Homo sapiens: one gene and its partners. The protein of the gene in region 3 interacts with the protein of the main gene of each other region in a pairwise test. Each region holds a gene or a part of one and is shown on either strand. Other genes may lie near its edges.

What was found.
Region 1: the proteins of TENT2 (region 3) and DTX2 interact in binary tests that used the Homo sapiens proteins (3 or more experiments, as listed by UniProt).
Region 2: the proteins of TENT2 (region 3) and ANXA2 interact in a two-hybrid assay, tested with the Homo sapiens proteins (one study listed by BioGRID).
Region 4: the proteins of TENT2 (region 3) and RBPMS interact in binary tests that used the Homo sapiens proteins (3 or more experiments, as listed by UniProt).

Annotation. Positions count from the first base shown.
Region 1 is NC_000007.14:76,499,696-76,506,503, reverse strand, and holds the end of DTX2 (probable E3 ubiquitin-protein ligase DTX2), read right to left. Parts: intron 6,064-6,808; coding exon 5,984-6,063; intron 4,300-5,983; coding exon of another isoform or gene 4,285-4,299; exon of another isoform or gene 4,270-4,284; intron 4,207-4,269; coding exon 4,048-4,206; intron 3,079-4,047; coding exon 2,917-3,078; intron 2,149-2,916; coding exon 2,059-2,148; intron 1,131-2,058; coding exon 903-1,130; 3' UTR 513-902; downstream 1-512. UniProt on the Homo sapiens protein: Regulator of Notch signaling, a signaling pathway involved in cell-cell communications that regulates a broad spectrum of cell-fate determinations.
Region 2 is NC_000015.10:60,387,982-60,395,006, forward strand, and holds part of ANXA2 (annexin A2), read right to left. Parts: exon of another isoform or gene 6,396-7,025; intron 5,460-6,395; exon of another isoform or gene 2,232-5,459; intron 1-2,231. UniProt on the Homo sapiens protein: Calcium-regulated membrane-binding protein whose affinity for calcium is greatly enhanced by anionic phospholipids. It binds two calcium ions with high affinity. May be involved in heat-stress response.
Region 3 is NC_000005.10:79,608,423-79,615,453, reverse strand, and holds the start of TENT2 (poly(A) RNA polymerase GLD2), read right to left. Parts: upstream 3,014-7,031; 5' UTR 2,379-3,013; intron 2,237-2,378; exon of another isoform or gene 2,207-2,236; intron 1,520-2,206; exon of another isoform or gene 894-1,519; intron 1-893. UniProt on the Homo sapiens protein: Cytoplasmic poly(A) RNA polymerase that adds successive AMP monomers to the 3'-end of specific RNAs, forming a poly(A) tail. In contrast to the canonical nuclear poly(A) RNA polymerase, it only adds poly(A) to selected cytoplasmic mRNAs.
Region 4 is NC_000008.11:30,541,524-30,548,548, reverse strand, and holds part of RBPMS (RNA-binding protein with multiple splicing), read right to left. Parts: intron 4,056-7,025; coding exon 3,925-4,055; coding exon of another isoform or gene 3,778-3,924; exon of another isoform or gene 3,386-3,777; coding exon of another isoform or gene 3,374-3,385; exon of another isoform or gene 2,921-3,373; intron 2,889-2,920; exon of another isoform or gene 1,258-2,888; coding exon of another isoform or gene 1,126-1,257; exon of another isoform or gene 1,030-1,125; intron 1-1,029.

The DNA of each region.
Region 1 (6,808 bases), on a different chromosome or scaffold from region 3:
ATTAGAGGCGTGAGCCACTGCACCTGGCCTAATTTTTTTTTTAGAGATGAGGTCTTGCAATTTTGCTCAGGCTGGTCTCAAATGTCTGGACTACAGTGAGCCTCCTGTCTCGACCTTCTGAGCAGCTGGGATAACAGGCATGCGTCACCATGCCTGGTTCAAGTCATTGCACCTTTGAACCTGTTTCCACATCAGTAAAACAGAGACAGCAGCTCCAATCCTAAGTGAATGGCATTTTGTGAACCACAACCCCAGGGCCACAAAGGTGACAGCTGGTGCTCTGGGGTGACAGCCTCTGGCATGGCAGGGAGATCAGTGTAGGGCATGTGGAGGCCGCACAGCCCAGTACCGTGGGCTCCTCCATGCCTGGCTGTGGCCTGTTCTTCAGTTATCAAATGGGAGCCGATGAGCCCATGGAACCCCCTCTTGCTCTGATGCAGGAAGTGGGGGGGGGCACACACACACACAAGTGCGCACACACGCATGCATGCACACACTCAGGACCTGCTGGCTTTGGCTATAGAGCATTTATTGCAAACAAAATTGAGGTAAAAGAAGCTGACCCAGAACCCACGCCCGTCCAGGCTGGGGAAGTCTCTACTCGCCCCACACCAGGCCCCGAGCACCGCGGGCCCGAAGCAGCCCCCAGAGGACAGACGGGCCCTGCGCACTGAGGTAGCTGCATCCTAAGCCCCCATGAGTACAACTGCCCAGGGCTGCCCAATTCCCAGAGGGGAGGAGGAGAGAGAGGCAGGCAGGGGGAGCCCCGGCTTCAGGTGGGGCACACCCCACACCCTCAACAAACCTCCCAGCCTCTCGGGCTGGGCACTTCCTGCCTGGCCACCCAGCCAGCCATGGGGCAGCGGGGTGGCCACCAGAGGCGGGCGTGCTGGGGTGCGAGGTCACTGCTGCTCCAGGCAGTCCTCGGTCACCCCCTGGGCAGCCAGCTCAGCCAGCACGTTCTGCAGGTAGTTGGGGTCGGGATAGCCGTGGCCCGTAATGTTGCGGTCCATCTCTGTCTTGTGGTGGATCTCGTTCCATACCACGGTGTCCGTCTCACCCGTGGTGCTGGACGTGCCCACTGTGAAGATGAGCCGCCTCTTCCAGGCCACCTTCAGGAGCTCTAGGACCTGCCCGGGGAGGAGGAGGGGGAAGAGGAAGGAGGGGACGGAGAGTGAGAGGGGCTCAGTGAGCAGGCACGGGTTGGCACCATGTTCTTCCCATCCCAGCCCCTCCCAGGTGACTCATCCACTCCCTGGCACTCACCCCATCTGCAGGGACCCCAAAACTGCCCACTGGATAGTACATTAGGATCCCACATGAACCTGGGCTCCAGCCCACCCCGCCTCAGTGCCTGGCACTGCCATCCGTTTGGTCCTGATGCCCAGGCACCATGCTCGAGTCCTCCCTGCTTCCACAGCCGTTGCTGGACGAGCGCCCGCCCACCCACCCTCCCTGGTGGAATCCAGGCCTCCCTGCCCTCTCCCTGCCCTCTCCCCGCCTCCAGCTCCGCCACCTCAAGCCCATTCTCACACGGCCAGAGCTTTTCCAAAGCTCCATCAGCAGCTCCACCTCCGTGGCTTCGCTGGGCGCTCAGAACCAGCTCTACCCCTGGTGCTGGCCTGGGGGGCACCCTGTCTTCACACCCACACCACGGGCTCCCACTATCCTGCCTTCCTGGAAGGCTCGTCCCCAACCTTCTCTGCAGCCACAAAGTCCCTATTCATGTCTCAGTGCAGACACCACTGCTCCAGCCTTCCGTGGTCACCTGGTCTAACACAGCCCCCGGTCCCTGCCTGTCACACTCTGACTCTCAGGAGCTCCTGACCCCACCCGGCAGGGTGCTGGAAGGTGATGGCCTCTCCTCCTCCCTCGAGGCTATGTGAGGTCCAGGCTGCCCTCCCTGTACCTACAGCAGGTCCCCAGAAAAGAGCAGCAGACACTCGGCCCGGCCTCAGCCTCTGTCCTCCGCTGCAGAAGCAGAGTCCAGTGTGGCGCCTGGCCTCCTGCCGCCTGGTCAGGGCCCCGTCCACCCCCCGGGCGCATGGTGGCACTCACCTTGCGGCCCTGGGCGTTGTCTGGAAGGTAGCACTGGCGGGGAAACCCTCTGGCAGTGAACGGCTTTCCGGGATTGGGGTGCTCAGGGCCCTGCGGGAGGAACAGACACCAGGATAGGGTGCTCCGAGAGCCCGCACAGGGACAGGCCCCTGCACAGCTCCAGCTCCTCCCCCGCTCCGAGATGCCAACCCCGAATGTTCCTGAATTTCCCTCTGAGCTGTGGAGAAGTGGAGGGAAACCAGGGGAAAGGCTCATGGTTCAACAAGACAAAAAGATGCCTCCATCCACCACAGGTGGACCTTGGCTGGCAGCCAGTGCCCGCTGCCTGCTGCCCCGTTATCTTCCCACCCTGCCCCAGGCCCTACGATCCACCTTGGCTCAAGACAGGAGACCGAAAGGGCTAGGGCCCGTCTGAGTCTCCTCTGGGACTCTGGGGCCTTGTGCCTGGGCTCCTGACACCCACACGCCTGGCCCTGCCACTCCCAACCCAAGGTTCCTCGACGCACACCCTGCTGTGGCCCCGCTTCTCCAGCCCCTCCGCAGGGTTCCTCCCACTGAACTGCCTGCCCTTCTGCCCAGAACAAGTCCAGCTAAGATGGCTCCTCCTCTAGGAAGGCTTCCTTGGTTCAGGAAAGAGTGGAGGGCCAGCCTTTTGCTGCCACAGCCCTAAGAGCTTACCCTAAGCCCCGGCACTGCCTCCCCATTCCCGGCCCTCCATGGCTCTGGCCTTAGGGGACCTGGGGGCCTGAGCTTGGCCACATGGGCATCCTCAGCCTTGATCCAGGGGCAGACTGCTGGGATGTGGGCGGGGTGGGAAGAGGAGTGGCCAGGAGTGGGGGACTCAAGAAGGCCCCTCACCTGGATACCATGGGGAATGCTGTAAACTATGAGGATGGTCCCGCAGTCCTCGTGGCCGGGGAGCGACATCTGGAACCGTAATACCTCCATCTTTCCCTGGGGCTGGGTCCCCGTCTTCTCTCCATAGATGGTTTTGCAGGAGGGACACTGCAGACTTCCATCCTGACAGAGGCAGACGCAACCCACTGAGCTGGCAGTCTGAGAACACCCAAGACCGTCACCTCCACCGTCAGATGGTAAAGGGCCCCGGGAATGGGCTGGCCACCATCCCAGGGAGTTGCTGGCAGCCTCCTGCCCGGAAACTGGCTTCCAACAGCTTCCCTGGAAAGCTTTGTTTTGCACCAGCAACTCATGCCATTTTCGTTAAGGGACATGCTATCAGGAGACAGGTGGCGAGTGGGAAAACTCGGATCCTGAGCAGAAATCTCCACGGGTGAATCGCATTTGCAGTCGGATAGACAGCCTTGCAGCGTCTGATCTGCGGAGCTGGGCCCTGGCTGCCCAGGATGGCAGACACTAGGGAAGGCCGAGCCAGGCTCCGATGCGCCACATGACTCGGTTCTCTAAGCCTCTAAACTCTGCCCATCCCGCCTGAAGGCCGATGCAGGGAGAGCAGCTGGGGGTCAGTCTGGGCGCGGCTCTTCATGTGTAGGCTGCTGTGGGGCCCAGGATCAGCCCTGCCTCAAGGCCTGGCTCCCACCTCCCAGTGGGGTGACCCTGGGCACAGCCCCTGCTCTGAGCCTCTCCCTCATGAGCACTGTGCTGACTGCACAGGGATGCTGTAAGGAAGAAGGGAGACAGTGTCTGCGGTGCTTACAAGTGGCCGAGGGGGAGGCGGTGCCCTGGGGCTCAGAGAAGCCCAGAATCTTCTCAGGCCTGGCTGGAGGGGTGGAGGGAACCAGCCGCACTGGTCCTCCTTTCTAAAGTGTGGGGCAGACCTAGAAGAGTAGGGCAGGCCTAGGAGAGCCGGCCAGGCCTTTAGAAAGGTCTTCAAGCTGGCCCCACGCCCAGCACCATCTTTTGCAGAGGCCCATTCCTACAGCCACCCCCGGAACCCTCCCGCCCCTGCAGGGGACAGCTCAGGACTGTGGGGGCGGGCCACCCGCCTCCGCCCTGGGCCAGTGGGGGCACCTTATTGCCGTTGCAGTACATGGCCAGGAGGCACAGCAGGTGGAAGGCATGGCTGCACTTGGTGAGGTGGCCCACAGCTAGGGACCCGATTGCCTTGCTGTCAGTCACATCGCTGTATCCAGACGCTGTGGACAGCTTCTCCATGCAGATGATGCAGTCCTGGAGGAGACCAAACATGGGTCATGCTCGCCAACAGTGGGCTGGGCTGACGTGGGCCAGTCTTGGAAAAAGAGGCTTTCATGTGCTGAAATGCTGGAAGTGCAGTCAAAGTCAATTCCGAGGCCAGGCGCAGTGGCTCAGGCCTGTAATCCCAGCACTCTAGGAGGCCGATCACTTGAGGTCAGGAATTTGAGGCCAGCCTGGCCAACACGGGAAAACCCCATCTCTACTAAGAATACAAAAATTAGCTGGGCGTGTTGGCAGGTGCCTATAATCCCAGCTACTCGGGAGGCTGAGGCAAGAGAATCGCTTGAACTCAGGGGGCAGAGGTTGCAGAGCTGAGATTGTGCCACTGCACTCCAGCCTGGGTGACAGAGCGAGACTCCGTCTCAGAAAAAAAAAAAAAAAAGTCCATTCCACAGGCTGGAGACACAGGTGAGTCACCGGGACCTGTGCCTCTGAAGGGCTTACCAGCAGCACAGGCCCGACATGACAGCAGAAGCCACCAAATGGGGAGGACGGACAGGGCAGGATCCTGGGGGAGGCCCTCGGCGTGGGGTCTTACAAGGGAGACAGGAATTGCCAGATGGACAAGCACAGAGTGGGCACCCGGAAGAGGGAGGAGGACGTTCTGAACGAGGAGCCAGCTCATGGGCACTAAAGCTGGCAGGGGGTGGGCTGGGAGCAGGAGATGAGACAGGATCAGGGAGAGGCGCGCCCTCGGGGGTCTGGCTGCCACACTCAGGGGCTTGGGGCTGTGTGTGAGTTGGGGGTCCTGCTGGCGGTTCCAGGCAGGGAGTGCTCCCATGATCCAAGCTGCGTGCTGGCTGTGCAGACGGCAGCTTGGAGAGGAGGAGCCTGGGGTGAAACGGCCCAGTCACACCAGATGGACACCAGGGCCGAGACAGAGCTGAGCGCTGGGCAGGCGGGAATGTGGCAAGGGCTTGTGGAAGGGGTGGGACACATGAGGAGGACGTTCAGGCTCCTTTCCAAACCTTTACTTACCAGATTTTTCTCATGGACTCAACAGACTGGAGAAAGAGACAAGTGAAGAGTCCCTGGGTACTGGGGCTCCTGGCCTTCCACCCGCCCCCAAGTATCTGAAGATCTCTGGGTACTGGTACTCCCGGCCGTTCACCCACCCCCTCCCCCAACAGTATCTCCAGGGCTCCCAGCTAAAATCAGGGGAAAGTGGTGCTGCAGCCCCCAAAACGTGGCTCAGTAGAGGTTCAGGTTCTATGGAAGCGCAACAGGAGTCTGATTGGTCCTGTTCATTACAGGAGGTCAGGAGGACAGGGCTGCAGTGAGCTGTGATCACGCCACTGCACTGAGCCTGGGCGACAGTGTGCACCCGTCTTTAAGAATAAAAAAATTATAAGAACCTTGACCAGCTCTCCCAATAGCCGGGGGGCAGGACAGCCACCTGGACGAGGCCACCTCACTTCTACACCAGCATCCGCAAGGTGGAGAGTGGGGCAGGCTGGCCCATCCCTTGTCTCTGGAATTCCTGCTCCCAGGATGGCCATCAGGCTATGGAGAGGCCAGGGCCGGGAGAGGAGGGGCTTTGCTCAGGACCACAGCTCCTTAAGTGCAAAGCTCAGACCATAACGATGTGGGTCTCGGGAGGCTGGGAGATGAAACCAAAGGGGCTGGAGCAAGGCCCTGGCACCCAGAGGCACCTGGGAAGCACCCTTCAAGCAAGATGGGGCGGATGTCCTTTCCATGTGGAGTTGTTTCCAAACAGAAACAAAGGCAGCCAAGGTCCCAAGACACAAACCTCATCTGGGGGCACTTTCAGCTCTTCCGTGTAGTTTTTTATGACCTGCTCTGGCTCTGGCTCTGGCTTCGGGGTCGCTCCTAGAAGAGAGAAGTACATAAGCAGCGTCCTGAGGAGCACAGGCTGGAGAGGAGGCCAGAGGGCGAGGAAGGGAAGGAAGAGGTCTAAGCTGCCAGGAGGAAATGCGAGAGGGGCCCAGACAGGGAGGCCAGTGTGCGGGACGGGAGAGCTCAGCGCCAGGCACAGAGCCCCGAGCTCCGTCGGGCAAAGCCTTCCCCAGTCCCACCGTCCGGGGACCCGGCTCAGCCCCAGGAGCCATGGAGGATGCAGAAGAGCAGAAACAGCAGCACAGTCTCCTGGGAGCCGCATCCCCGCGCACATTGAGTGAGGAACCGACCCCGGCGCTTCTGAGGCTGCGCGGAAGAGTCAGACAGCCGCTTCGGGCACAAACTACTCCAGGGGGCGTTGTGGCACCACGATTTGATTCAACTTGCATTACCCTGGCATGAACATCACAGGGACAAGGGAGTCTGGGGTCCAGCATGTACAGGCAGCTGCACACACGCCGACCGCCACACAGACACTGTCCCGGGAAACGCCTGCCACTGACTGGGAAGGTCTGTCACATGCAGACTAGCTCCTAAGTCCAGCGACTCTGGGGAGGGGCCAAGACGTGGCAGGAGCCCACCCTGACGGCCTCACTCGCTGTCTGTGCACACGTGCACGAAGCTGGAGGGAGAAGGGCTGCATCTCCATAAACACCGAACCCCACATCCAGTAAAGCCTCTCCTACGGACAAGAAGCTCCTGAGCTGGTGAGGATCGG
Region 2 (7,025 bases), on a different chromosome or scaffold from region 3:
GATAGAGACCAGCCTGGCCAACATGGTGAAACCCCATCTCTACTAAAAATACAAAAATTAGCTGGGCGTGGGGGCGGGCGCCTGTAATCCCAACTACTCGGGAGGCTGAGACAGGAGAATAGCTTGAAACCAGAAGGCAGAGGTAGCAGTGAGCCAAGATCACACCACTGCACTCCAGCCTGGGCAACAAGAGCAAAACTCCGTCTCAAAAAAAAAAAAAGACAATTTAGAATAGTCTTGCTCTGTAGCAGAACCGTCCAATACAGTAGCCACCAGCCTCATGTGGCTACAAAGCATCTGAAATGTGGTCAGTTCAAACTGAGATGTGCTATAAGTGTAAAGGACATTCTGAATTTTGAAGACATAGTATGAAAAAATTATATAAAATTTCTCATTTATAATTTCTTTCTTGGTAAAGGCAGGGTCTTGCTATGTTGCCCAGGCTGGTCTCGAACTCCTAGCCTCAAGTGATCCAAGCACTGAGATTACGGGCATAAACCACTGTGTCCAGCCCAATAATTTATATATTGATCATATATTACAATTACAACTATGATATGTTGAATATATCTTATTTCCATTTAATTTCCTTTTTCCTTTTTCCATTTTTTTTCCTTTTTTTTTTAATGTTTCAGTAGAGACAAGGTCCCACTGTGTTGCCCAGGCTGGTCTTGAATTCCTGGGCTCAAGCAATCCCTCCGCCTTAGCCTACCAAAGCACTGAGATTACAGGGGTTAGCCACCACACCTAGACCTTTTTTTTTTTTTTTTTTGTCTGAGACAGGGTTTCTCTCTCTGTTACCCAGGCTGGAGTGCAGTGGTGCAATCATAGCTCACTGCAGCCTTGATCTCCAGGACTCAAGAGATCCTCCTGCCTCAGCCTCCCAAGTAGCTGGGACTACAGGCGTGTGCCACTACACCTGGCTTTTTTTTTTCCAGTAGAGATAATGTCGCGTTACCTTGCCCAGGCTGACAGTCTTCTTGACAGAGCAAGAAATCTCTAACTTCAACATGGACCAAGAAACATTCTAGAGGGTCTCATCAGTATCCCTCAGCCCGAGAATTACCGAAGCAGAGGTGAAACTCCTAGGATGGACATCAAACCACCCAAGCCCTGGCCTTAACTATCACCCCTGGACTCAGTCAGAACTGGACCAGGTCTGCAGCAGGGGATAAACTGTTGTCATCTGCTGTGCAGAATTCTAGTCTCTACCATAAACAGGCAAGAAATAAAAAATGCCAAACGTAAAACAAAAGCAAAACCAGGGAACTAGCAAGTCAGAGTTGCAAACAGAGTTGTTTCCACTTAGAGAGTATAGATTAAATTCCACTTGTTTATGAAATCAGACACCTCACATTGGTTCCGATGTTTAGAAAATCTCAACTAGAGGCACGGTAACTTTTCATTGTGTTGTTCTTTCAAGTTGTCTTTCCAGCTCTGAGCTTTGTAGACTGCTGCCTACCCGTGTCCCACATGGGACTCCCCAGTACTGTGCAGATCAAAGACAATCTGATAGGCTTCTTTACACTCTCCATTCATGTTAATTCTTCTCCCACAGCCACAACACCTTGAGGAGACTGTTAAAAGCCCCACAAATCTTCCTTTCGGTTTCACCATTCATAACTGTGCTGCTCTTTCATCAAATCAGTCCTGCATGCCACCACCAACTAAATCTCCCCATTTAATCTTGTCAAAATCATTTGACATCATTCAAAATCAGTCCTCCAGCAGAGCCCAGCCTTCAAAGATGAGCATCAGAATCCTGTAAACAGTAAACAGTTCCCTCTGTTTACTCCTCAGCTACAGTTGACTAGGGCCAAAATGTGACTTGCCTCTCCGCACTCACCACTACTTCAGTATCTGCTCCAACAGGGTCACCACGACCCCTACTCTACAGAACTCTATCTTGCCTTTCACTGCCAGGGCACTTTTTGATACCACTTCATTCATCCATTCGGCAGAATGTTTTAAGTGCCCTACACGTGCCAAGTATTCAAATGGTGAATGCATAGGTACAATTCAAAGCAGTAGAAAGTATATGGTTGACCTCATCTTCCCTACATAGTCCCAGTCCCCCTACAGATTTCAGATTATCTTTACATAATGCAGGTGCTAAATCAACTTGAAAACAATGAGTTGCTATTTTGCATAACATTTATACTATGTATAACCATTTTGCAGAAAAAAAAAACAAAACACAAACATCACAATAACCACAAAGTCACACTTACCACAAAGCAGTATCTATGAAATTTGACATTATCCCATGCAGGTGCCTTTTGTATCCATATAAATATTTCCTACTTCATGTGAGTTTAATGGCAAACATTTTCACCCTAGAAATAAAATATGGCCACTTTCCTCCCATGCCGATAGCATTCCGGAAAACATGGTGAACATTCCTAAAACCCACTGGGCTTTCTGTAAGAAGTGTGGCAAGCACCAACCCCACAAAACGGCACAATACCAGGACTCCCTGTATGCCCAGGGAAAGCGGCGTTATGACAAGAAGCAGAGTGACTATGGTGGGTAGACTAAGGCAATTTTCTGGAAAACGGGTAAAATTACAAAGGAGGTTGTGCTGAGGCTTGAGTGTGCTGACCCCATCTGCAGATCTAAGAAAATGCTGGCTGTTAAGACATGCAAACATTTTCAACTGGGAGGAGATAACAAAAGAAAGGGCCAAGTGATCCAGTTCTAAGCATCATCTTTTGTTTTATTATGAGGACAATAAAATCTTGAGGTTATGTCCAAAAAACAAAACAAAATAAAAAGAAATAAAATACAGTGCTTGCTTCTTCACTCCATCAAATCCCCTAGCAATGCAAAGTCATTTTGCATATGATCTATTATTCGCTGGAAGGAACAGTTGGCTTTGCGATTCACTGTTTGTTAAAACATTAGTTTAATATAGCATATTTGACTAATGAGAATGTGTCAGTGTGCTGCTATCCTTGAAAGCAGGAAAAGGAAGTCTTGGCAGTGCTACTGTAGGTTACAAACACTGGTAATACGCAAGGAATTAATCAACGAACCCATACCAAGCATACGCTGAGCCTGCACTATATTAAAGGATACAAAAGACACTTATAAAACTGTGAAATGCAGACTTCCACCCTGCAGGACCTTTGAGCTCTCTTCCCTTCGTGCCTCTGTGACACACTGAGAGTCTAGTCCAGGGTCACCCAGTGAATTAAGTAGCTGAGGCAGGGCCAAAACCCAGATCCCCAGACTCCTGGGCCAATGCCCTTTCAACCTCACCACAATGGTTCTTTATTCCAAGTGATTAAGACACAGAGAGAAAGATCACAGCCATCAGAGCGGGATTAGTTAAGGGCTTAACAGGGAGGTGCTGTCTGCCTAGGCTGAGAAGGGTGAATCACCATGGGAGGTTCCAGCCAAGAAGCAAGGGGGAAGGCCTGGGGAGAGGGGAAGAGGAATAATGCCCCAGGGTGGCAGAAGAACAAGACTACAGGCTGGAAAATGAGCCACGTCCAGTGGGGTGCCCTGTGGGGAACCTAAAATATAAGTCTCTGAATGGTGCAAAGTTAAGCTTGCCTATGGAAATACTGGGGAACCTATGAGCCAAAATGATTGGGACTCAGTACTCATATTTATCTATTCACCAAAACATTTGCTCTGGAGGCAGAATTTTCTTACTGAAAACAACTACTCTGACTTCAGTGTACTTACTGTTTTGAATGAAAATAAAAAATAAAGCCTACATGCTGTATGAGACAATTTCACCTCTACTCACTCCTCATCACCGTATAAAACTCATAAATCCATTAAAAACAGAACCACTACTCCTTTTCTGGCAGACTTCTCTAAAGAACATGAAAATGGCAGTTTGCACCACTCTTTCCAACACTTCAACCTCACCCAGCTTGCCGACTGGTTTCAACTCTCCAACAAGAAAAAAAAAAAAAAATCAGCAAATTCAATCTGTTGATGAGTACATCTACATACACATCAGTGCCGTGCCTTCCATTCCCAGGGAGGGCAGGGTCACTAGACAACATCATTAAAATGACCCTTTATCAGAGAACGTTTTTCTGTTTAAGGAAATAAACTAGAGGTACAGGGAGACTCACTGATAAGAGCCATACCCACCTCAAACTGGTTTAAAATCATTCACTACTTGGGTAGGAAAACAGGTCACTTGGCCCCACCCTAATGAAAAGAACAGTTTCTTCTGCCTTGAAAAGGCTGATAAATGAGACTGTGAATGCCTGGCTAAAAAAGCTCACAGTGCAAGGCTGATCATTAATGAAATCAGTGCAGTTATTGAGAAACAAGTCATTTACATTTAACATAAGGACTATATTATTTAGGTTGGTGCAAAAATAACTGCCATTACTTTTAATGGCAAAAACCACAATTAACTTTTGTACCAACCTAATAATTTAAGGGTTTGTCCTTATTAAAAAAAAAAAAACTCTATAGATTTTATTGTATTCTATTGCTTCACTACGAAAGTGCAGTTACAAACAAAAAAAGGACAAGTGAAGCAGTTTTAACTTTACTCCCAAAAAGAAGAGTAAAAGTTTACAAAAAGGTTAAAACAAACAAACAAAAGAAAACTTAAAAGTCAACACTTCAAATAGTAAAAACACATTCTACTGAACTAAATTAAGAACCAGTTCCAAAAAGCCCAAATGTTAATCTGAACAAACAAAAACATACTGCAACAGGGCTGGTCTGCACAGGCAAATCTGAGTCTAATCCAGAAGTTTTGTGGACACACCCACTTCACAGTTTAAACGTGGAGTGTTGATGCGTTACCGCAAAACAGATTCTTAGCAACCATGGTGAATCAATCAGGGACTGGTGATTCAAATGAAGATTTTAAAGCAAAAATGGGTAGAGGTGGGAGTGTGGAGAGTTGGGTTCTCCATCAAAGCTCTTACTGTACACAGTCCTGGACACACAGTCTACAGGCCACACTGGAATTTTAAACTAAAAAAAAAAAAAAAAAAAAATGTACTGGGTGAGGAGAGGGGTTCCCACTGTACTCCATCCTCCACCCACCTACTGCATCTTTATTTATCAGAACCTTTTTGAAAGCAGATATTCTTCTCCTTGGTTTTATGGTCTTGATTAATGACTGAGTCACAGGGCCAACTCATTCCCCAGAATTCCTGGAATTCGGCCCAGTGACCTCGATCAAACTGAGCAGGAGGGACACACAGCACTTGCTCCAGCTTGTCTCTTCTGTGGCCTGATCTGAATCAATATTTGTTTGCTCCCTACTGACTTGTTGCAGCTTCATGCTCTCACAGCCTCTCTCTGCTGGTATCCTGATCTGGGGTTGGAGTGGGTGGAAAGAGACCGGCAGGAAGAATGATGTCACTTGGCATGAAGCACTTTCAGGGTTGGGAAATCCAGGCCTTCAAGTCTGCAACTCAATTTCAGTGTTTTATGGCCCACATATTGTATTTTCAACAGGGCCTGGCCGCCTACAGAAAAAAGTCTAATGTCAGCATTCAAGACCTTCCACACTGTGGACTTACCTACCTTTCCTTAAATATCTTCTATACACACACACATGCATACACGCATCCTGCACAGAAGAGTTAACTGGACTGTTAACTCTTCTCCAAACACGCTCAGCACTTTCTAAGTTCCCTCCACCAGGAACCTCAATCTTAATTAGCTGACATCTGAATGAGTCTTTAGGATACAGGAAATCATAAATGCCGCCTTTCTCACACACCCCTCCTTGCCCTGTGCTTCTGCAGCTTTTTGTGTGTCTGTGCAACATTAGAGTTACATGTGTAAAGTCTGTCTTCCGTATTATCCGCCCACAGGGTTTCCAACTTAACTCCCTCCTGTTTCCTCATAGGTCTGAGCACAGTGCCTGGCACACGATAGGCATTCAATTTCATCTTGGGATGGTTTACACACACTGGGTCTTTCTATATTAGAAAGTCTTTTTTTCTTCTTTTCCAACACACTCTCCTTCCTCAATTTTCTCTCTCCCTCAGACTGGACATTTCGAATGCAGTTCCAGTTCCGTGCATTCAGAGTTGGAGGCTTAAATCACCAACTTCTGCAAATCTTAGCAAAGCCCAGCAGGTCGCTTCAGGGCAGCCTCTTATCAACATATAGCCATGCCCCCCACCTCTGTGCTGTCAGGGATACTTGGACCCTAGCTCTGTCCATAGGACCACATGGGAACGTAACCTACAACTCCTAGCAAGAAGGCAGCAAAGAGGCAGGATGTACGAGTGGCCTTAGGACTCTGATTTCCTCTGAGCTGTGAGTGTATAGCCTGGGTGTGGCAGGGAGACAAAGGACATGGACAAAGGGCTCCATAACACAGTCACTCCCTAGAATAAGAAATTTCTACACCACACCTGGGGTAAAACTCAGGCCACTTGGGTGCTACCGACCTGTCCAGTTGAGCTCAGCTGGATTAAAAGCTTCAGGGTGGGCCAGGCATAGTGGCTCACGCCTGTAATCCCAGCAGTTTGGGAAGCCGAGACAGGCGGATCACTTGAGCTCAACAGTTCCAGACCAGCCTGGCCAACATGATGAAACCCTGTCTCTACTAAAAATACAAAGATTAGCCCGGCATGGTGGTAGGCACCTGTAATCCCAGCTACTCGGGAGGGTGAGGCTGGAGAATCACTTGAACCTGGGAGGCGGAGGCTACAGTGAGGAGAGATCGTGCGACTACACTCCAGGCTGGGTGACAGAGCCAGGCTCCATCTCAAAAGAAAAAAAAAAGAAAAAAAAAAACAGCTTCAGGGTGTACCCTAGAAGGGAGATTTGGAAGTCATCTGGTAGAACCACCCAGAAGGACAAATATGGGCATCTCCTGACCCCTACTGCTGACCTGTCCCTGGAGAAAGTAGATGAGGACTGCCTCTGGCAACAGCAGAAGAAAAAAGATACCAGGCAGTGAATGGGTGGAAAGAATTTTTTTGAAGGACTGGAATTTCCTCTGGTGTGGCCTACAACTAGAATAGGGTGTGGCACCAGGGCAAGTGAAGAGGATTCTCATGTGAAAAAAAAGAGGA
Region 3 (7,031 bases):
AGAAAAACTAGAATTAAAATCTTGTACTTTCAGGTTTATTTAAATCGGTTCATAGCAAAAAGCCTAGATACTTTTGTTTATACCTATAAAAAATATGCTGTTTTTCCTCTATAACTGAATAAGGTCCATGTATATTAAGATTTGAAGATGCAAAATGACATCAAGAGCCCAGGCCTCACCTTGTTTTCATCTCTTACACAGCCAAATCCAAACTAAGTCTAAAGATGACTTGTGGCTCAGAACTACTCTACCAAGTTAATGACCAAATTATCCCCAGCTTAAAAACTTAGATTGAGTCCACAGCCAGATGTTTAGTCTAGGGCAGAAATCTAGTTTAGCATATTCCAAATTCCCAGAAATATATCAAGCTCTGGAGCCCCTGCAAAACAAAGGATCTGTCAGCCTCTCCTCAGTATGAATTTTGGCCCTCAAGTCAGGCTCTTTTTAAAGAAGGTAGGCTTCAAGTAGAGGAAAATCATTCCGACGCATTCGTTCTATGCTCACCAATATAGGTATTCTGAAAGACATCTAGAGTTGAGGAAGTAAATGAAACGCCTATGAATTTCTATGCCTTTTTCTAATACATTTCACATTGATTTTGATGAAAATAAAAATGACATCAAAACAATTATCATAAACAACATAATCATTTTTTTAAAGAGACTGTAGAGTTTCACAAAATACAGTAAAACTATTACTGTAACAGAAATAAGGGGACCTCCACAAAATTTTAAATCATTTTCTTCATACTCTGAATGAAAGGTTTCTTAAGTAGAGATTAGCTATATAAAACGTTACTCCACATTAACTATGGTCTTCTACCATCTCCTATGTGACAAATTTTATGATAGATACATAAAATCCAGATATTGGCAATATCCAATTTTCCTTACCTTAAAAGTTATCAGTTCCACAATCTGTACTTGACCATGAAAGAGTATACTGGTACTTTCTTTACGGAGAAAACCTTAAAGACGGTTTCCTAAGGTGGACCCAATGGGAAATTACACAGGTTTACATGAGACAAGGTAGTAAAAGAGTAGATTAATTCGGCCGGGCACAGTGGCTCACGCCTGTAATCCCAGCACTTTGGGAGGCCGAGGCGGATGGATCACCTGAGGTCAGGAGTTGGAGACCAGCCTGGCCAACATGGTGAAACCCTGCCTCTACTAAAAATACAAAAATTAGCCAAGCATAGTGGCACGTGCCTGTAATCCCAGCTACTCGGCAGGCTGAGGCAGGAGATCGCTTGAACCCAGGAGGCAGAGGCTGCAGTGAGCCAAGATAGTGCCATTGCACTGTAGCCTGGGTGACAAGATCAAGATTCCGTCTTGCAAAAAAAAAAAAAAAAAAAAAAAAAAAGATTAATTCCTAGTAATTTCTAGTTATAAAGTATTTGGTCCTGGAATTTGCAACCTGGAATTTCTGTCCTCAACTTGACCTCTCCTCCAACAAATTAGAGAACACTCAAGGTTATATATAATTCCTTCATCAGGATTCTTTAGAAAGCAGAATATACCTAGAATGAAAACCAGAAATTTACTGGCTAAACCAAGATACTGTCCATTTTGTCCAAATACCTTTGATATCTCAAACCCACTTTTCTCCACAATACGAAAAATCCAGTTCCTAAATCCTGCCAACCCACTGTGAAAACTACTTCCAGGTTTTGAACAGGATATTCCTTTTGGTTAAGAATTAAATTACACCCAAGTGTTCAAAAAAATAATCTAGTCACATGGCTCCAAATGGGCATTTCTTAAACAACTCATAAACGGCCTATTTCACATGGAACCTGTTACAGGACATTTCCAGAACAGACATAATTAGGGCTATTCACACCAACAAAGTAACGTCACTATTACTGGCTATTAATCAGTATAAATTAATAGCCTTATGGCTGTTAATCAGTACGTGTTAGAAGCCTGGTGGTACTGAACCATACAATATGAAGATATTTACAAAAGTTACTATGTTACCTGTAATATAAAAACACAGATTTAGTAATCAGTTACAATCTCTTTCTTCACAAAATCATACACTGCACATGTGTTATTTAGCTTGTGTTTTACAGTTTCCCTTTGTTTCTTCTCTGTTCACCCTAATGAAAAATATCTGCTACTTTAAACAAAGAGTTGAAAGAGATAAGACAAGTAATTTAGAGAATCCATAAGTTTTGAGACATATAAGCCTTTCGTGTTCTCACCTTGAGAGACGAAGAGCTTTTCTACAAAGGCTGAACAAGAAAAGAAACGCACACAACAGTCTTAACCTGTGCATTTTCCTATAAAGTGAAAAGCTGAAGCAATTTCATGCCATTTAATTAAGGCTTAAAAGATAAATGCCTTTTAAATTTTTTAATTAATCCAGCTACGTACCTTAGTTCTTCACCACCCTTTGAAACACCATGCAAGGGTCCCAAGACTATCTTCCTCTTTTGGTCCTGGAGTGGTGGACGAGGCAGTACGCGAGGAATAGAAAACGAGTAAGCAAAGTAAGCGGTCCTAAGATTCTTCAAAATGTACAGCAGCCCAGATGCCGCCCATAAATTTGGAATAACCAAGAGATACTGCTGGAACCTCCCACGCAAAACAAAACGCTACCGTTTCGGAAAAGTTTCCCGTGCCCCGCCGCCGACCTGGGCCTACACTGCTGCGTTCCTCTCCGAAACCCCCTAAACTCACAGGTGTCCTCCGGGAAGGGCTAAGCAGGGCCTACCCGCACTGCCCGTTCAGAAGTTCTAAGGCCCGAGCTGGGCGTACTTGGTCGTAGCTTTCTCCCGAACCAAAGGAGGTAGTGGTGGCCCGTGGGACAGCTAGGCCCAGCTCCGGCTCCGGCTGAGATCTAACCCCCCTCACGGCTGCCAGGGGAGGAGCAACACAAGAAAAGGTAGGGGCTGCAAGGATATAGAAGGTTGGGGGCGGTGGCAAAAAGCGGAAGAGCAAAAAGTCGCCGAAAAAGCGGCGTAGAAAACCCTGTCAAAGACACCCGGAAGACCGACGTGACCCCGGATGAGAATAGGCAGCGGGGAGCGAAAGGTCACACTTCCGGTGGCCGCCTCCCTCCCACCCCCCAACCCCCCCCACCCCCCAACCCCCCCCACCCCCCCCACCCCGCCTATGAGCGCTTTGCTTGAATGCGCAGGCGCAAGACAGCCGGATTTGAAAGGAGTTTCTTAACTGCTGCCAGCACAAGTTGGGAAAGGGTTAGGACTGCACTAAGAGGGGTGGAGCAGGCAGTCGCCGGAGGGCCACTTCTGGGCCCCTTGCCTGAACTCACGTGCAGCCGTTCTAGCTGTAACAGACGTTTTCTGTGGGTCCTTCGTGTGTTGGCCGAGTGACTTGTCCCCAGAGAAGCCTTTCTTTAACCAGTGTTCCCCTAATCTTCTCCCCCGGAGCAACATTAAACTTTATCTGTTCTTTTGCCCCTCCAGTAACCTGAGAGCTTCTTTGGAAGGAAAATGCTTTCTTTGGCCGGACGCGGTGGCTCACCCCTGTAATCCTAGCACTTTGGGAGGCTGAGGCGGGCGGATCACGAGGTCAGGAGTTCGAGACCAGCCTGGCCAACATGGTGAAACCCCATCTTTACTAAAAATACAAAAATTAGCCGAGCTTGGTGGCGTGCGCCTGTAACCCCGCTACTCAAGAGGCTGAGGCTGGCGAATCGCTTGAACCCGGGAGGCGGAGGTTGCAGTGAGCCGAGATCGTGCCACAGCACTCCAGCCTGGGCGACAGAGCAAGACTTTGTCTCAAAAAAAAAAAAAAAAAAAAATGCTTTCTTTCTCTCTAAAGCCTGGACTTAGCGCCTTGCCCATAGTAATAGCTGGTATTCACTAATTCAACAAATATTTATTGATATCGCCTCTTGAGTGAGCTTTAATAATTTGTAGAAATGTCTAAATTGTTTAATAATGCAAATCTGTTAGCTGTATTCCTTTATTGTCCACTTAATGTCTATAAAATCTGACCCCTCAGGTTCTGAAATTGGTAATTTGTGTGTCATCTTTTTTTCTGATCGATCTGGTGAGGGGCTTCTCGGTTTACGGATCTCAAATCTCAAAGCCCGTTTTTGCTTTCTTGGATTTTCTCTACTGGTTTTCTGTTTTCTATTTTATTGATTTCTGCTCTTATGTTTATTGTTTCCTTTACTCTGCTATTTTTTAATTTTTAAATTTCTTGTTTTGTTTCTCTAGTTTCTTAACTCAGAAACTGATGACCATTAATTTTAGATGTCTCTTGTTTGTACAGGCATTTGGTGTGATAAGTGTCCCTCTATACTGTTTTAGCTACATTCCACATATTTTGATATATTGTATTTTCATTTTCCTTCATTTCAAAATACTTTGTAATTTCCCTATTGCTTTCTTTTTTTGACCATGGGTTTTTTGTAAGTGTTGGTCTGCAAATGTGGAGGAGTTTTCCAGGTAGCTGCCTGTTACTGATTTCTGATTTAATCCCATTGTGATCAGAGAAGGTACTTCGTACACTATTAATAATTTTAAACTTATTGACACTTGTTCTGTGGCCCAGAGTATATAGTCTGTCTTGGTAAATACTCACTGTGCATTTGAAATGAATGTGTTTTTTGCAGTTGTTGCATGGAGTGTTCTATAAATGTCAATCATGTCAAGTTGGTTGATATTAGTGTTCAAATCTATATCCTTTCTGATTTACTGTCTACTTATTCTACTAATTATTGAGAGTATTGAAATTTCTGACTATTACTGGTTTTTTTCAATTGTAGTTCTATCAATTTCTGCTTCATGTACTTTGCAGCTCAGCTATTAGTTGCATAAACATAGTTATTCTCTTATTTGTATGAATTTATCCTTTATGAAAGTTTCATTATTATGAAATTATCCACTTTACAAATGACCCTCCTCTTTGCTGATAATGTTCTTTGCTCTGAAGTATATTTTGTCTGATAGTATTACAGCTACTTAGGCTTTCTTTTGTAGGGTGTTAACATGGTATATATAAGGAAAACATAATTCCAATTCTAGATAAAGTCCTCCAAAAATTGAAGAGGAGGGAATACTTCCCAGCTCATTCTGTGGGGCCAGCATTACACTAATACCCAAACTCTAGATATTAAACAAGCAAACTATGGACCAATATCTCTCATAAACATAATATGCACAATTCTAGTCACTTTTATTTCACAGTATATAAAAAAGATAATACATTATATCCAAACAGGTGCTTATCCTAGGAATGCAAGGTTGAATTAGCATTGTATTGACCATAAAAGAGTATACTGGTACTTGCTTTACGGAGAAAACTTTAAAGACTGTTTCCTAAGGTGGACCCAATGGGAAATTACACAGGTTTACATGAGACAAGGCAGTAAAAAGTAGATTATATAAAAAAGATATATAAATATATAAATACATAAAAATATATAAAAAAGATAATACATTATAACCAAACAGGGGCTTATCCTAGGAATGCAAGGTTGAATTAGCATTGGTAAATCAAGCAATGTAATTTACCATATTAACAAACTAAAAAAGAAAAACCATTTGATAATCTCAATACATGCAGCAAATGCATTGGACAAAATCCAGTATCCATTCCTAAGATTACAAGGAAACTTCCTCAACTTGATAGAGAGTGTCTATAAAAAGCATCACACTTAATGGTGAAGAACAGTGCTTTCAACTTAAGATCAGGAACAAGGCAAGGATTTCTGCTCTGACAACTTATGTTCAATATTGTACTGGGGATTCTAGCCTGTGCAATAAGGCAAGGAAAAAAAAAAGGCATTCAAATTAGCAAAGAAGGAAGTAAAACTGGTTTTATTTGTTTTATTTATTGAAAACTCTGGCACAAAATCTACAAAAAACTATCAGATCAAATAAATGACCAAGACTACAGGTCGTAAAATCAATACACAAATGTCAATGGCATTTGTAGTACACCAGCAATAAACAATCTGAAATTGAAATTTAAAATACCATCTACAACAGCATCAAAAATTTGAGGCGGGCATGGTGGCATGCACCTGTAGTCCCAGCTACTTGAGAGGATGAGGCAGAGAATCACTTGAGCCCAGGAGTATGATGGCATTATGATAGGTCACTGCAGCCCCAGAAAGAGAATGGAAAGACAAGCCAAAAACTGAAGCAGCTATTTGCAAATCACGTATCTGATAAGAATGTGTGTGTGTGGTTGTTTTTTTTTTTTTTTTTTTTTTTGAGATAGGGTCTTGCTGTGTCTCAAAAGAGCTGGAGTGTAGTGGCATGCTCACGACTCACTGCTACCTCGACTTCCCAGGCTCAAGTGATCCTCCCACCTCAACTTCCTTAGTGCTGGGACTACAGGTGTGCACCACCATGCCTGATTAATTATTGTATTTGTTATAGAGGATGGAGTTTCCCCATGTTGCCCAGGCTGGTCTCGAACTCCTTGACTCAAGCAATCCACCTGCCTCAGACTCTCTAAGTGCCGGAATTACAAGTGTGAGCCATCATGCCAGGCCCTGGTAAATAATTTATATCCAGGCTGGGCAAGATGGCTCACGCCTGTAATCTCAGCACTTTGGGAGGCCGAGGTGGGTGGATCACAAGGTCAGTAGTTCGAGACCAGCCTGGCCAATATGGTGAAACCCCGACTCTACTAAAAATACAAAAATTAGCCTGGCATGGTGGCAGGCGCCTGTAGTCCCAGCTACTTGGGAGGCTGAAGCAGGAGAATCACTTGAACCCGGGAGGCAGAGGTTGCAGTGAGCCGAGATCACGCCATTGCACTCCAGCCTGGGTGACAGGGCAAGACTCTGTCCACAAAAAAAAAAAAAAAAAAAAAAAAAAAAAAATTTATATCCAGAGTGTCTATTTTTTGAACTCTCATACCTCAATAGTAACCCAAAAAAATGGGCAAAAGGTTTGAAGAGACATTTCATCAAAGAAGCCATATATGGATGACAAATAAAGGCATGAAAAGATATGCAACATCATTAGTCATTAGAAGAAATACAGATTAAGAGAAAAATATAAATTAAGACCTCAACAACATACCCTACCTATTTGATGG
Region 4 (7,025 bases), on a different chromosome or scaffold from region 3:
TTATGTCCAGGTAAGCTGTACAGCAGCCCTATTAGAAATCCGATAGAACTGCTGTTACTCTGGACAAATGAGGCCTCTGAAAAGGAATTAGGTAACCAGGACTTTCTCTCTCAGTCCTACTTACCTACAGAAGCTTCTGGCCCCACACTGTGACTCTGCCTGAAGTACAGGGTGTATGGTGTGTTTCGAGAATGTGGTAAGGACAGTATACTTTAACGACTTTCTCTCTGCCCATCACAACAAGACTGAAAGCAGAACATGAGCTCAAACCTAAGAGGCGGAAGTGTGTGAATGTGAGGTGACAGAACAGCTGTGTGCTCTCTTCAGTGTATAAGCTTTTTGAAAGCAACAGATGAAAGTTTCCTCTCCTAATTAACACATTTCAAATACCAATGACCTTGAAAGTAAACTGGATGATCACTTTTAAAAATGTTAATGATCTTCTTAGCAATCCGATGTCTGCTGCACAGGGTCGCTCTTTGATCTCTAAACATTAAGTCAGTACTGAGGCTTTCAGTCCTATTACCTTATCCAATAATTTCTAAAAAACGGGATCTGATGGCAAATAAGTATCCTTACTTTAGAGCTGGGAAATCTGAAGGGGTACCAGACCACAGCTGAAGCCGGGGCAGAGCTAGAAATGTGACTCAACTTCTTTTCAATGACACTTTGTCTCCTGGTCTTCCTTCCTGTGGATCCCGGTGGGCAGACTGCACACTGCACCCACACGTTTCACAGGGGCTCCCCTAGCTAGACGCAGCATCCCTGCTGAAGTGAGGTCTCCTGGTGGATGAGACGCTTCCAACATGCAGCTCTTGGTGGCTCTTCTGGGAGCCCAGGGAGAGACAAGCAGCAGCAGTGTGGCCTCGGCTCCAGGACCTGGCCTCTCCAGGAAGCTCGTTCTGAGTCCTTCTATGTAAAATAGACTTGGTGTCACAGGCCCAATTCTCCCAAAACCTCAGTCAGAGAGTAACACCTTTGCTCCAAAATTGCATCACCATGAAAACAAAACGCTGCAGTCTACTTGAGTTCATTTTTGCTCTGATTAAAATTTTTATTGAAATCTCTCAAAGGTCGTCAAGAAATAGTTTTTGTGAAAGGGGGGAAAATAGCTAACAAACAAATTCAACATGGGAGCTCCCTCTGCTGGTCTGCAGTAGGTTGGTATGTTACAAACACATTCCCAGAGACAAATCTAATTTGCTGGAGAAGTGGACAAAAGACAGGTGTGTTGGGCTTTGCCTCAGGAGAGAAACACTAGAAGAAAAAAAAAATCCATGTCTCAAAATAGAGCATAACATTGCTAAGAAAAACAAAATTATTTAAAGCCTCTCCAAAGACATTATAAGATTTCCAAAACAAAGACTGAATTCTCCAATATGGGGAGATGCCCCGTAGAGGCTCCAGTCTGCTCTGCCTCCAGTTACTAAAGATTCTCTTGGGCCCTTTGGGTGAGGGTTAAGTGCTGATTCCCTTTGCTTTGCCTCCAAGTCTCTTCTTACAGGCTTCCCATCTACTTAGAGAAGAAAGATCCAAAGAGTCACTGGAGTGAGGCCTTTCCAAAATTCCATTAAAGAATAAGTCTGTGGTGAGCCAGCACCTCGGAGTGGAAAGAGCCAGGCCTGGGAGGCAGGTGACCTGGGTCTAGTCATGGTAGAGCCCCTTCAGATTGTGGGTAACTCCCTCCATCTTCTCAGGCCTGTTTCCTCATCTGTAAAATGGGTCAGACCAGCTGATCTGTAAAGCCTCTACTAGTTCATTCTGATTCTCATACTGGACAAATACATTTAAATAACCGTATTTGTTCATAGAGTCCATGACTGCACTGGGAATGACTCCAAACAAGAAGTGGCGTTGAAAACTGATACCAGAGGAGAGTCCCACCAAATCTGGGACCGATGTGGCAGAGCTAAGTGGATTCCAGTTTGGGAAAGTCTCAAGATCAAGGAAGAACTCCCAGGGGAGGGTGCCACCATGGGCAGTGCATCCCATTAAGTCAAATGGCTGAGTCCATTTAATCTTGGCACTGTCTCTCCCCATCCTTCCTTACAATGGCATATGCTTTCTAATCTCTTGAGACTCTTTAGGCCCTTCTCTTACCATACCGTATCTCCAGAATTACTTCTGATTTGACCCATTACATGAATGAAGAATGAGCAGATGTCATGGCCAAAAGCCACTATTCCCAGTACTTTCTGGCTGTTGTCAACTCTTGATTATCCAGGGTAAGGGTGAAAGGCTTTGTTGCTGACTAACCAAAGCCATGGCTATTCAGAAGACTATGCAAACCACTGTTTCATGGTATTTATTAACATTTGCCTTAATTGCCACGTGATCTGTACCCGGCAGTCTAGCAAGAGGAGACACCATCCAGAGCAGGGGTGGGAGGTGGCAAGCAAAAGGGGCTCTTAGTTGCCCCATGTCATCCACATATTTATCCGCAGCCTGCTACAAAGATCCTAATGACTCAGCAGAAGACACCCACAGGTTTACATTTTATCCCGACCCCGTTACCTGCCAGTTGTGAGGGTTCCCAAGCACTGACATGGAAAAAGGAAGAAAAAGCAGCAGGGGAAGGAGAAGCCAAAGGCACAGGTAATCCTGGCTCCTTTATTTTCTGTGCCATGTACTCTCAACCACCAACACCACCTACATTTTTTTCTTCACTACTTGTACTACTTTCTCCCTTCTTCTCCCAACATAGAGGGCAATCATTACTGGGGCTCAGGCACCAAGGGCAGGCCAGGAAGCCGGGTCATCAATGCACGCACAACGTGTTGGTAACTCAGAATTAAAAGATGTTCAGCCAACAACAATCTCGACCCCATGACTTTCAAGAACCCTCGCTGGGGGCTGCTTCTAGGTGGTCTTTATCAAGACAGGGAATTCTGTACAACATAAAAGAGTTTTAAGTCAGAAGGAGGTTTTCTGGGAAGCTGTTTATTTCACCCAGCCTTGTAAACAAACACTGAGCAAAACAGGCAAACGAAAACTCTGCCTGTCCAGCCTAATAATTTTTAAAAATTTAAAATTTAAAGGCTGAATTACACATGCAGAAAGACAAATGAAACCTACGTACGTACTTTCTATTTGTTACTGGTCATCAATCTTTGCAGGCCAAAGAATGAGTGGTGATCTCCAGAGGTGAATCTTTACACTGATTACTACCACTTGCACTAAAAGCGAAGCTAAGAGAAATATTTTCTCCAAGGGGAGAGGAAGTGTTAGTATGTAGACAGTAATCTTTGCGGAGAAACAGGAAGTTTGTTTATAAAAATCAGGCTATTTTTAACTAAGAAAGAAAGCTGGTCAGAATAGAGATCTCTACCTTGACCTGTAATTCCATCTTAGACACTATCTTGTATCTCCTTTTCTACAGGGTTTCCTGAAAATGGAGAGAAGGAACCCTTAATCTTTCCTGTAACATATTTAAGAAAGTACAGCCTTCCCCCCTGGAAGCTTTCCCTTTGGTCAGAGATTCTTCTCACCGTACACGAGAGTGGAAAACTCTCAACACACAGAAACACGCACAGACGCACATATCCCCTTCTCCTAGCACACACCTTCCTCTGCAGCCCTTCCACACAAGGCACACACGTATACACTCTGGTGATGCCCTCTAGCTAGCTGGGAGCCAGGTGGATAAACCTGCCCCGGTCTCTCATGTGCGATATGAGGTGAGATCATTAAGGAAGAGAGAGGTGTCATTTGGGGCAAACATCAGGCAGTGGGTGATATCATTGCTGTCAGACGATCCTCGTCAGTCCTGAAGGAGTGTCAGCTTGATTTAGAGGGGATCATTAATCTCTTGAGGGTGGATCTGTTAGCTGGATAGGTGTTAGTTGTATGGTGTGCTCTCGGGAACCAAGTTTGAAAGGACTGGTGGTGAAGTGAGTGAAGTCCTGGCCGATGGGTATCAATTACCTGGGCATGCAGTGAAGCGGGATAGGTGAAAGCAGGAGGAGGTAGAGCAGGCGCTAACTCCGCTGGGTACAGAGGGTACGGGGCCCACACTTCAGGGCTACTGGGGTAAAGTGCAGGCACTGTGAGCTCATCTGCAAGAAAAGAATAAGGCGAGAGTTAGTGGTTACCATACAGCTAGTTTCAAATCAGAAAACAAAACACCCAACAACCCCGAGCCCCAATCACTGTCGGAAGTCAAATTACTCTCATTCTTTTAACAACCTGTTGTTTGTTGGCTTTGGTCCCACAAATGCTAAGTAAGGGAACGAAAAATATAACACAAGAAAAGCAACAAGCATCTGCTGCCTGTCTGGCCTGCTGAGATCTCAGGCCTGGACTCCGCCTTGAACACTCTGATGTCTTTCCGACTGTAGCTGGGGAACCCAAAACAGTGGGAATTTCCTGCACAAAACAGGAAATGCGACCCTCTGAGGAAAAGGGAGAGAAAGAACCAATGAAAGACATCCCATGAGAACCCACTGCAGAGCCTTTGGGAAAACCATGGCTTAACGGCAGGGCCTCAACAGACCAGAACTGGAAGACTTTTCTGTTTATTGGCATAATTACTATTGACAAGTCAGTAATGATCATCAAGCATTTTCCACGTAGCCCTCAGAAGTACAGGGCCAAATACTGTGACCACAGGGCATTTAAGATCTTAAAAATTCAGAGAATTGAAGTGAAAAACCTTGAGAATCCTGATTAAAATTACACTCCACAAAGATGTAAACAGGAACATTTCCAGTTGCTCTTTACAGACTAACTTTTAGGGGAAAAAAGTGAGTCATATTGCCAAGTGCCTGGTCTAAGTGTTCCTCAGGCAGCTCCAATTCCACCCAGGTCAGGCTGCAGTTGGCCAGATTGAAGGGCAAGTGCCTGGGCCTCCCATGTATCAGGAAGCAATCCATTAAAAGTAACAGCAAACACATGAGGGAGCTTCTCAGGAAAGGCAAAAATAACATCAGTCAATAGCAAGGAATCTGGGCCCTGTGAAGCAGCAATCTCAATATGTGCTTTTATCACCTGTCAAAATCTGAAATCAAGTGTGCCAAGGACGCTATCCAGGACTAACACGGGAGTCAGCAAAAGGTGATTTGATAGAAGTCATTAGTAACTCTGCCATTCAGTACTTTCCCTGAGTCTACAGTGCAAGGTCAACAGAGTCACTTTATTCCTTCCTACCATCTAAGGAGCCATTCCAGGCCCAGTGTCTCTGCATCCTTCCCATCCCCCGAAACTCTTCAATACAGAAAGGGGGCTAGCAACAGAAAACTGCTTTGCTCGGTGTGATGTGGGACTGCTCTATGGCGAAACCAGAAAGTAGCAGAACCTGTGTGAGGCTTCCCCACAGCCAGCTTGCATGGCACGAGCTTCTCTCAGGATGGTAGGGAGTCAGGAGCTGACTGCTGATGATACGTTCAGAGGGCAGTTTGTACCCATTTTCAGATATGATGGGACCCCAACAATGTGGTTTAACATACTGTTGCTGGTTGGCCTTCCTGACTCCCTTCTCCTCTCAACAAGGCAGTAAAAACTACCTCCTCAGGACTTGGTGATAGAAAGACAGACTGCCTGTGCATCTAGGTGGGAGAAATAAGCCCCTAAGAGTGGACTGATCATTATTAGTCAGGGTGAAAGCAACAACACCAGAGTCCTTAAAATGATCAGGTCCACAGCATCTACTGTGTTCTAGGGTGTGTAGGTGCCTGTAGCCCAAGGCTTAGGGACCACCCTCAGAGGGGCTGGGAGGGGCTTAATAGATCCCTGTGCTTCCTGTTGTGATGAGACCATGTGATTTCCAGAGTAACTCACGTGGGAGCCCAGCTAGTGGAAACTAACTGCTACCAGAACCAATGCCTTGAATTTTAAACAAACAACCATTCTCAGGAATGCCAAACTATTATTGTTGTTTAGCGACCAGGCTATTTTAAGACATTCTGAGTCTTTTAAATCCTCAGTACACTGTGGCCCATGCTTGTCTGTTCCCACTGTGATAGCAGAAGACCATAAAACTGATACATACAACTGATTCCAAATGGCAGAGCCCTCAGGGGGAACGTGTTTGGCCTGCAGCCTGTCAGTGGTCCTTCCTTATCTTCCTGGCTAACTGGGGTGGGGTGGGTAGAGGTGGTTACCTGATCAGTAGGTCCTTCCTTTAGAAACTTTTAAAAATGAAATGAGTATGTCCTTTAAGATATCTGATCCTAAAGAGATAAGCAACAGAGATAAGCTGGAATCAGATTTCAGTGTCAGCCTGACTGCTGGAATTTATGTTTCCCAGACTTTTCTCTGTTTTTATCCTGAAGCATTACTTCCCATTAGTTCTTTACTGATGCTTAGAGACAATTCACCATTGATATTTGCACAAAACCCAGCCCAGCAGAAAAGAGGATTTGGTCTGAAATCCCCTAAACTCAAAATTGCTGAGTAGTAGTAACGTATTAGTGAGGCAGAAGCCTAAAAGAGATAAAGGTGAACTTACACTTGATAAATCCCTTGATACATCTTATCATCTCCGTCTCCCTTCTCCCATCATGAAGGAATGTGGAATTACCATAAACATCAAAAGATACGTGGTCTGACCAGGTCAGGATCGCACCTGAAGCAGTCCTCACCAACACCTAACTTTCCAGTATGAGCCTGAGCACTCTCCTAACACACACATACACTCCTTTGACGGAAATGGGTATTAAAGCAGAATAAGCTTTTTGCGTTTGTTTGCTTTTTCGTTGCTTGAGAAAATTACAAAAGCTAGAGAGACTGGTTTTCCACAGCACAAGCCCTTCACAAGGACTCCCCACTGAAGGAGCAGGCAAGGCCCTGATGGGTTTCACCTTCCTGAGTCACTGCCCATCCTGCTCAAACTTTACAGGATGGAAGGCTGAAAAAAGAAGACAAAGATTGCTGCCCAAGGCCCACTGGGATGAATTGGAGTTTAGGGAGGGGGTGAGATTCCTCTTGACAAAAGAGGCTCTTGACCACCCAGAGTGAGCCAGGCCCCAGTAAGCAGAAAGAGGGCAGATCAAGAGGCCAGGGCTTTTTTGTCTGGGCCTAATCCATCC